3 linked regions of the Homo sapiens genome follow. The protein of the gene in region 1 purifies or fractionates together with the protein of each later gene. This does not show direct contact. Each region holds a gene or a part of one and is shown on either strand. Other genes may lie near its edges. The genes, in order: MITF, KLHL20 and RBPJ.

Region 1 (3,737 bases):
TGGAAATTTGGGTGCCATTAAGATGCTTTGCTTCTTGGCAGTGCATATGGTGGCGCTATATTTGGTGGTGATGAGTAGTGTGCAGCATAAAATGTAAAAAAAAAAAAATTAAAAAAATTAAGCCGCCTGATAAAAATGCCTTGATGCAATCAAGCTGACTTATTTTAATTCAACTACTAATGACTTAAATCCTGTCACCTCTTGATTTTCAATTATGTGGAGTACCATTCTGTGACTTGATTATATTTGCGCAGACTCATTTTATAGTTTGGTGCAATTTAGGATACCCCCAAAGTGCAAACGAAGGGTCTCATTAGGAAACTAAATGTTGTATGCATTTTGGTTTTCCCACAGCAGTTCCGCCGAGCATCCTGGGGCCTCCAAGCCTCCGATAAGCTCCTCCAGTATGACATCACGCATCTTGCTACGCCAGCAACTCATGCGTGAGCAGATGCAGGAGCAGGAGCGCAGGGAGCAGCAGCAGAAGCTGCAGGCGGCCCAGTTCATGCAACAGAGAGTGCCCGTGAGTCAGACACCAGCCATAAACGTCAGTGTGCCCACCACCCTTCCCTCTGCCACGCAGGTGCCGATGGAAGTCCTTAAGGTACGTGAGTGTTGCTCTTGTTGGTTGGACCAAACTCTCTTCCATTTTCCATTTGCTAGGTGTTTTGTTTATCTGAATATGTATTTTGTTAGACTGACCCTTCAGAATTATATTTGAAAACTCCAACTCCCTTAATTCTTACGTGGCTTTATATTTTAAAAGAAGGATGCAAACGCATTGTAACTGTAATAGTAACAATCAGTAAATGGTGGGAGTCAATGTTCCATGAGAAATTGCAAGTAGGAATACATGTTTGTTGTGATGACATCTTTCTTTGGGAAAGTTTCAAAACCAGAATTATCTGAGGTGGGCCTCTTCTGATAATTTGTGTATCTTAAATATTTTTCTCTTAAATACCTTCCATAGCCACTCTTTACTTTTCTTTTTATTTAGTATGTAATATTGGTTGTAAAATCTGACTGTTTTAGAGAGCTCTTCACATATAAGATTGAAGAAGAGCTTTCTGCGCTTTGATAACCAGACTACATAATCCTTTTACTGAAGTGAGTTGTCTGCTTTGGGTCTCTTTGATTTCTTGCTAGAGTAGAAACTGCAGGAGCTTGTTAGCATCATTCGATTAGGGACATATAGCTTCCTAATTACTAAGGAAAATTGTAACAAGTCTAAGAATAGAATTCCATCTCACACGTGTCTTCCACATCACATAGGGAGATACTCCTTGTTTAAGAATAAACATTTCAGTTCTTAAATATGACTGATTCAAGGAAAGTTAAAAGGAAAGTAGAGGAACTTCCTTATTTTTAGTTTTTTTATTTTAGTACCTGCTCACCTAATTCTGAAAAGTCTCAAGTGTTACTGTTCATTAAACAATGTGAACTTTACAGACCGGTGATTCATTATTGGTTTTTGCATTCATCCATGTGCACAGAAAAAATGTCTCCCATTATTTAAAGTTTACTATTAAAGTAAATAGAGAGATGATGTGTTATAATCAGGAATCAATCTGTGAACCTTACCAGGAAGTAGGAAAGAGATTCTTTAAAAAACAAATCAAGAGTCAATTATTTTTTATTTGCGAAGACTTAAAATATAGTGATGCAATAATGGAACTCGGATGAAGAAACCAACTGAAATTGGGTTAGGGAAAAAAGATACAAATAGTTTAGCATAAAGTTTTACTCTAATGTGATTGTTTGAAATTCTGGATATTGCCACAGTTAATGGATTTTTTCCTCTTTCTTTTTTTACCCGTCAGTTAACTCAAGGTTTTCTCTCTGGAGTAGATGATGCATTGAATCTTTCTGTTCTGCTTGGGTGAAAATTGATATGATCACTAAGTTTTTATAGATTTAAGAATTATTTAAGATTTATGTTGTTGTCTCATGCCTGCAGGGGTGATAATCATTGTGTATACCTTAGGTTATTTAAAATTGTATGAATTAAATAGTAACAAGATGTGGAGAAATATGTCTATTTTATTCATCATAATAGTTCACCTTTATAATCTGTAGGGCAAATTTTAGAAGAGTTGCCATGGATTTGGGCTACTAGTGGGTTATATCCAACTGAAGGTAATGTTAAAGAATTTTTATTAAAATCAATATTCCTGTTAAGGCAGCTACAACAGAGAGGAAATTACCCAAATGAAAATGTGTTGAAACATCATTTCCAGATTATCTTAAAAGTGAGCATAATTTCTAAATGCTTTTGTCACTGTAAATATATTATTTTTGAAAATGATTAAAGTTAAAATCTACATTAAGTTGTTTGAATAACATACCAATATTTTTATATGTTGCTGTGTCCTGGTGACACTGGATTGAGCTACAACCCCTAACTTATGTATGCCAGAAAAATGTCCAAAGTTAAAGCACAAATAAATTGTTACAGCTGGACGACATACTCTAACTAAAAATAAGTATTAGGTAAATTTCTCTTTCACTCTGAATATAGTTCCTGTCTATTTAACTTCTGCTTTTTTATATTTCAGTTATATAAACTAGTAAACTATGTCATATAAATAAAAATAAGGAATTATTGCCATAGCTATATGGTTAGGTTTGATAGCTATTTAGACAAATTTTGGTATTCTTAAATGAAGAAACAAATAAGAATACACGATTTTATTAAGACAATATTTTAAGAAAATCAGATAACATTTTTAAAGAGAATATCATATAAGTGATTGCTTCAGATACTTAAAGACTTAGGACTTCATAAATATAGTTGGCTTATTTTCAAAATTTTGTGTATAAAAGTATTATGAAACATTATAGAAAGATAAGTGAGAGAAAGGTGGTTTTTTTTTTCTTTTTTATAGTTTTTAAATCATAAGCATAATTTTGTGAAGTAAGTGGTTAATAGCAAAACAGTTAATATGCTTAATCTTGGACCATTTATTTCTCCATGAATATATATTTTCAAAGAATGGTAATACCAAGTATACTAATTGAGTGCATTATGATACAGATTATATTGAATAAATATTTTCTCATAGTATGGCCTGAGTAAATTCGCTTAATTTTTAAAGGTTTAACTTGCTAAAACAGAACATGCCTGCTTCTCAGTGGAGGTAGATGTATACAATTAGTCACACTTGCATGCACTAGAGAATCTGGTTAAATCTCTCCGTCTCCCAAGTTGTTTGTAAGAACCAGAGGGAAGAAAGGTCATAGTTTAGTTTTCATACACACACAAAGTTAAGTTACCAACATTCTGCTATCTGGATGAATGACTGATTTCAAAAAGCTAAAGCAGTGTTTTCAGGTTAATCCCTTTTTTTGGCAGAGTAAAATTTAAAATATGAAGCTTTATAAAGCATGTTTAAAAGTTATTGACATCTGGTAAACTTAGGACTAGTCAGATTTTGGGTTAGAGATCGAAAATCTGCACCACTCATTCCTCAACGTATAGTCATTGTGCCGTGAGTAAGTTCATGAATCTTTGTAAGATTAGCCTCTGGTTTCTATATTGATTTAATAATATATGAATTTTCCTTCATATTGATTTTCATTTTTGGGGACATGGAATCATGAGTCTTATTGCTATATATTTACATAGTAAAGATATTCTCCAAGTTTTTTAAGAACAACCTTACCCAATTGGGTATTGTAATTTAAGGATGCTCTTTTACCATAAATTAACCAACACCTGGAGTGCATAATGCATTTTT
Region 2 (3,737 bases), on another chromosome or scaffold:
TATAGATGAGAGCTCATGCCTTTAATAGTGTTTATTGGCTGGGTGCAGTGGTACAAGCCCATAATCCCAGCACTTGGGAGGATAAGGCAGGCAGATCACTTGAGCTCAGGTGTTTGAGACCAGCCTGGGCAGCGTGGTGATTCCCCGTTTCTACAAAAAAAAAAATACAAAAATTTGTTGGGCATGGTGGCATGCACTTGTAGTTGCAGCTACTCTGGAGGCTGAGGTAGGCACATCACTTGAGCCCAGGAGATTGAGGCTGCAGTGACCTACGATCATGCCACTGTACTCCAGCCTAGGCAACAGAGTAAGACCTATCTCAAAATTAATTAATTAAAATAATGGTGTTTATTTTCTCATAGGTGCTGCAGCATGTTCGTTTGCCTTTGCTTAGTCCCAAGTTCCTGGTCGGCACAGTAGGCTCTGATCCCCTCATCAAAAGTGATGAAGAATGCAGGTATGAGTGACCCTGGATGGGAAAAATCAACAACTAAGCATTCCTATTTTTTCCTAATTTCCTTATTTGTATTGCTTCCTAAATATTGTATTTTGCAGAGCTGAAACCAGGGCTTTAATTTAACAAGGTTTTCTTCTGGGCTAGAGTCAAGAGGAGGAAAAGAAGAAGAGAGAACTGAACTTCCAGTGTTTCATTCCATTAGGTTTTTATGTGTGGTGCTTACTGGTGTAGAAGTGGCAATAAAAAGGTAGATTTCCAAGATTTTAATGCAGGCTTGAATTTAAAGAGTCAATTCTCTGCTAATATTTTTTTTTTCCTTGAGATAATTAAATAATGCTGTTGACTCTGTCAATGAACATTTTTTCCTTCCATCACATATGTCTGGTTGGGGAATAGAATCAGCCTTGCTTTCTAAATTGTGGACAGAGTTGAAGATCTGCCACTTTCTAAAACAGCTGTAGAAAGATTTTCACTAAAACTAGGTGAAGCAGTTTCCAGAGGTTTTTTGACGAAAGAAACTCTTAACTACTTTTTCAAAGGGGGGGAAAAAAGCAACCTATTTTACTAGGCTGTCTTTAAAGTATATACAAAATGTAATAAATTACATTCCCAATTTGACAGATTGTAAGATTTAGGTTCAAATCTGAAATCATCTGGGATTGTTAACCATTTTTCCCCAGCATGTCCCAAATATAAAAGTGAAAGAGAAAATCCATACTCAGAACTTTGTAAACTACACTGACCTTTGAACCTCCCTTGGTGATTAAAGACATTTAGAATGATCCCTGATTCTAGAATGGTGGTAGGACATGTAGATTCACTTGCATTTCTTCTATAAACTAAAGCCTGTTCTTTTAACAGGAGAGGCTGGAGGGGATTTTAGATGTTTCTATTTTATTTTATTGTATCTTTTTTATATTAATCATTCTTCATTTTTCAGTTTACCATAGACTAGAGTTAAACTAGATTTTTGTATTCTATATTTAAAACACAGACAGGCCGGGCGCAGTGGCTCACGCCTGTAATCCCAGCACTTTGGGAGGCCGAGGTGGGTGTATCACCTGAGGTCAGGAGTTCGAGACCAGCCTCAACATGGAGAAACTGCATCTGTACTAAAAATACAAAAATTAGCTGGACATGGTGGTGCATGCCTGTAATCCCAGCTATTCAGGAGGCTGAGGCAGGAGAATTGCTTGAACCTGGGAGGTGGAGGTTGCGGTGAGCCAAGATCACACCATTGCTCTCCAGCCTGGGCAACAAAAGTGAAACTCAGTCTCAAAAAAAAAAAAAAAAAACACACAGACAAATGGCAATTAATTCTCCTAAATATTTGCAGTAGCAAAAAGGAAAACCATGTACATTATACATGCTGAAATCTGAAGAAATAATACATAGATGCCCTCCTCCATTAAAAGTAAATCAGATTGTATTGTACTGATTCTGATGCAGAAAGTAAAAGTACTTATGAAGTCATATTTAAAAGAAGACCCTTCCTGATATCCTAACTTCTTTTTGCTGCAGTTTCTTCCTCTATAAAGTGAGGATGATAATAGTGCCTATTCCATAAGGCTGTTGTGAAGATTAAATGAGTTTATATCTATTAAGCACTTAAAACCAGGACTAGCACATAGCTGTAAGTGTTGTTACTACCATTAATTTTGTGTTGGTTTGCTCAATATTATAGCTCTATAGTATTATTTGTAGGAACCCTCAAATGACCTAACAAGCTATTAGGAGATCAAAGTCTTTGTCTTTTTTTTTTTTTTTTTTGAGACGGAGTCTCGCTCTGTTGCCAGGCTGGAGTGCAGTGGTGCAATCTCGACTCACTGCAACCTCTGCCTCCCAAGTTCAACCGATTCTCCTGCTTCAGCCTCCTGAGTAGCTGGGACTACAGGCGCGTACCACCACACCCAGCTACTTTTTGTATTTTTAGTAGAGACGGGGTTTCACCATATTGGCCAGGATGGTCTCAATCTCTTGACCTCATGATCCACCGCCCCTCAGCCTCCCAAAGTGCTGGGATTACAGGCGTGAGCCACTGCAAAGTCATTACATGTGTAATTACTAGACTCTTCTCTTAAAGTGTCTTAACAAGACAGGAAATATGTCTCGGTAGACTTGTTGAGAGTAAACCATTCATATGTTACCAGATAGCAAATTTGTGGCAGTACAGTGTTTCTTTTCAGCAATCCGATTTTTGACCCAGTTTTATTACTTTAATCTAGCAAATAACTATTGCCCTGGCTGATGTGCTACCTTGCTAATATCTTGCAGAATCTAATAAAATTTATTAAAAAGTAGTAACTCTGCAGTGTGGTAATCAAATTGTAATTTTTACTTTTCTATAAGTTATTGTTGGCTGTAAGCATGTTGAGCTTTAGGCTAAATTTGCAGTGAGACATGAGTCATGATGGAAATACCAATCAATTCACAACTCAGTTTGACTGGCATTATTGGTTTCATGTTTGTGCCAATTTTAATATTGGCTGGCATTCATGATTTGGTTTGATTTATGCTTGCTTCCCTTTGCCAACCTATATATTCCTAAACTACATTGGGACTTAACTAACAATGTAATTTAGATATTTGGAATAAAGGCAGAATTTTTTCTACAGAGACTTGGTAGATGAGGCTAAAAACTACCTCCTATTGCCGCAAGAACGACCACTAATGCAAGGACCAAGGACGAGACCACGGAAACCTATCCGATGTGGGGAAGTACTCTTTGCAGGTTTGGATCTTAATATACTGTTAGTAAATTGAGTATTTTCCCAGGTGAGAAACTGTCATTTGAAAAATCCTTTGGACAATTATGATATTTACTGTCATAAGACACAAATAATAAGTCAGCATATAGCTTGACTCATAACCCATGATTCCACACTGATATACTCCAAAAGAGTGCTCTATTCTTTTTTCTCATTCAACACCTTTAATATCTATTTTTATATAAATCCAAAAATGTTGGCTGGTCACAGTGGCTCATGCCTATACAGCTTTCTGGAGGCCAGGCGTTTGAGACCAGCCTGGGCAATATAGGGAGGCCCCATCTTTACAAAAAATAAGAAAAACAATTGGCTGAGTGTGGTAGTGCATGTCTGTAGTCCCAGCTACTTGGGAGGCTGAGACAGGAGGATGGCTTGAGCCTAGGAGGTCAAGGCTGCAGTGAGCTGTGATTGCACCACTGTACTCCAGCCTGGGGAACAGAACAAGATCCTGTCTCAAAAAATAAAAAATAAAAATGTCGTGCAGTAGATGTTTTGTTGAAATGAGTCACATG
Region 3 (3,205 bases), on another chromosome or scaffold:
TTTATTATCTTTACTTTTTTGGGGGGTTGGAGGGGGTAGCCTAGCCAGAACATCATTGTAATCTTAAAACATAAGATGCTTTTATTAGATGATCAACTAAAATAGCTGGAAGACAGTACTTTAGAAACAGATAGTTGTAAGATTATAAAATGCAAATGTAACTTATGTTTTCATTTTTTTCTCTGCCTTTTTTGTTTGTTTGTTTTCTCTTTTCCAGTACTGAGCATCTCCACAAATGTCTCCTAACTCAGAAAATGTTTCTTTTCTTTTCAGTTGAGATTTGGTTGCATTCAGGGTTGTAGGTTGGCCTTGCTTGCTAACCCCGCCGGTTTTACCGTGCTTTCATTCCTGAACTTTGTTTATGCCTTTGTTTGGTTTCTTCGAAATTGCAGCAGACTCATTGGGCTACATTTAGTACAGGAACCACGTGTGTAATGTTATACAACACAGTCTAGTAATACAATCATCCCTCTTAGAGTAAAAACTACCTCTAGATTGTGGTAAGCTTTTACTGTCCCATAAAACAGGAGCCACAGTACCTTATGAATGCAAAACTGTAACTTCCTACAGTGTTTCCCTACAGAACATTGTCTTTCTGGTGTCCTGGGCTGTTTTGAAAAAGTTTCCATTAATAGACTTTTTAGAAATTATTATTAGTAGCATTTTTTTTCCAGCTTTGCTGTCTTCATCACTCACTCTATGCTCAGACTATGCCACTGTAAATATTCTTCCTAACATCTTTAAATCGCCTTTTCCTCAGTTTTCAAGGGGAAGGTCATTTGTAAAGCACGTTAGGTGGTTAAATCAGTTATTGCGGTTTTCTCTTACTGCAAGCCTTTTTAATCACCCCCAGGCTGCATTTTATTCTATATCGCCTTTTTTCTTCAAATCTGCTCCAATCACTCACTTCTCTCTTATAAGCTAATCCTGCCTCACACCTTAAATCTGTTTCAGTGATCAAGGGCAGAACTCATTGTGGCCTTATCTTTCTTTGTTGTAATTGTTCACTGTCTCTTTCTTACAGACCACTTATTTCTGAGTAGTAGTTATTCCTCTCTATGGAGTCATGGCAGGAATCATTACACAGTGCTTTTGTTCAGAGCATGGACATGTTCCTAGTGCTGCTTTGCTTTAACGGCCACAAGTTTCCTCCACTTCCTAGGTTTGGTATTTAGTTAAGGAATCATATTAAATTAACCAATAACAAAAGAGATACTTTTGAAGAACAAACTATTCCTTACCCATTTTTGTAGCTCAAAAATAATTTTTCAAGTTCATGACCTTATTAAAATGAACTTGTGTTTTTTTAACAAACATGTATGTTTTATTTTGATAGTTTCTTTCCGTAAGATAATTGAAATATTATACTGTAAACCCTTTTCTTTTCTTTTTTTGAAAAGTCCAAGAATGTACTTATACAGGCATTTTTCCCCACCTATTTTTGGCCATTCTCATACCACAGACTAAAGAGTGAAATGATTTGTCCATTGTAGCTTATTGTTTATCAGTAGTTCTTTTGTCAGCTGCTTACATTTTTTCTTTCATGGTTTTGTGAATCATTTTCAGTATGTAATTTATAGGAACCTTGTCCTCTGGTTATAGTAGACTGTGTGCCCTCCTCCAGTGATGGCATTATTAGACATGCTGGTCATTTACCCTCAGAAAGACTCTCTTATTAGAATGGTGAGTGCTTCAGTTATAGTATGTTTGAATTTTTAAAAAATTCTGTTTTAGAAATGTATCTTATGCTCTCATGACTATGCAGTTTCTAAACATACACATAGAAGCTGAGTCTCTGATCCAATATGTTTTTATTTGTTCCATTTAATTTATCACATAGATTGGGAAGGCAAGCTAAAAGCCTTAAAAATGCCCTTTATATTTTGAGTGATTTCAGCGTTGAACACTAGTATACTATCTAAATTTGCTGCTCACTTTCTTTAAACTGTGGCAATTAAAGGCATGTTTATACATGACTTAATCGTGAAATGTTTGTCACTCTTACTGCACAGACTTATCTGCAATCATAACTGGTTAGTTTTTTTGTTTTGTTTTGTTTTATTGTTTTTAATGAAACTGGTACCATCTGTGCTTTCACAAAAAACTTCCAATGCCATTTTTGAGAACTAACCTAACTAGTCATGCTAACCAGAAAATCCACTGGGGAGGAGGTTCCTTTTGAAACAAAATGCTGTTCAGTTAGTAACCAAGTTACTTTGATTGCAAAAGCAGCTGTGTTTCTGATAAGTACTGAACAAATGTGTGTAATTTTCTGTGCCAGACTTATGACTTTGTTTTCAAGCACTGTAATGTGGGATGGATGGTTAGAAACAATAATATATTAGGGTTTCTGTTTAACCCTTTCAGGACTGAACTGTATCTCCTTTTGTTAATTTTCCCCTGTGTTGTGATAAATGTTTGCCAGCATTCAGTACTGTGTTGGTCCAGATGTAGGTTTATATGCTCATTTTTAGCTTATTTCTTGTACCTTGCAGCATGCTCTACGCATTCAGTCCTTAAGGGGTTTATTTTACAAACTGTGCGCCTGTAAGGTTTATTAGCAATAAGATAGAAAATTGAGCAAGTTTATACCATAATTTTGTAGAAAAAAAGAATCTGCTCAGTTCCATATTTCATCCGTGAAAAACTTGCAATACGAGCAGTTTCAAGGAATAAATAAAAAGGAAATGTAAACCATTGTAAAAGTCTTCTGTCGAATGTGCCTGATGCATGTATTATCGTCTTTTATTTCAGAATACTTCATAAAGATAAAATTAAATTCTATATTATAGTTGGTGTATTTACAATCTTACCATGTACATCACATCAAAGTGATAGCTCTACTAATTTAATTTCCTTGTCAATGTTTTTAACTATATAGTGCTTTAAAGAGATTTTTTTTCCCTGTGTAAATGGTGAAATGGGCTTTGTCACTCAAGGGTCATATCTCTCAAATCAGAATCATTTAAAGCTGATTGCAACAAAATTTGAGAATATTACTTAGCAATAACTTACTTTTCCAATATAAGATGGTCATTTTGTCTGCTATAGGAAGGAACACATAATCGTTTGCCTTTGAGGGGTGGGGGTGGGTCCTAGAAGTGGGGATAGTATTCTTTAATATGAAACAAAGTTAAATGGGGAAGTTACATAAGTTTTTTTTTTTGAGACGGGGTCTTGCTCTGTCGCCCCTGAGCTGGAGTGC

Evidence for each region.
Region 2: the proteins of MITF (region 1) and KLHL20 purify together in Homo sapiens (affinity purification with mass spectrometry; one large-scale study listed by BioGRID and IntAct). This does not show direct contact.
Region 3: the proteins of MITF (region 1) and RBPJ purify together in Homo sapiens (co-immunoprecipitation; one study listed by IntAct). This does not show direct contact.

Annotation. Positions count from the first base shown.
Region 1 is NC_000003.12:69,878,780-69,882,516, forward strand, and holds part of MITF (microphthalmia-associated transcription factor), read left to right. Parts: intron 1-354; coding exon 355-604; intron 605-3,737. UniProt on the Homo sapiens protein: Transcription factor that acts as a master regulator of melanocyte survival and differentiation as well as melanosome biogenesis.
Region 2 is NC_000001.11:173,752,851-173,756,587, forward strand, and holds part of KLHL20 (kelch-like protein 20), read left to right. Parts: intron 1-362; coding exon 363-457; intron 458-3,072; coding exon 3,073-3,188; intron 3,189-3,737. UniProt on the Homo sapiens protein: Substrate-specific adapter of a BCR (BTB-CUL3-RBX1) E3 ubiquitin-protein ligase complex involved in interferon response and anterograde Golgi to endosome transport.
Region 3 is NC_000004.12:26,432,219-26,435,423, forward strand, and holds the end of RBPJ (recombining binding protein suppressor of hairless), read left to right. Parts: 3' UTR 1-2,705; downstream 2,706-3,205. UniProt on the Homo sapiens protein: Transcriptional regulator that plays a central role in Notch signaling, a signaling pathway involved in cell-cell communication that regulates a broad spectrum of cell-fate determinations.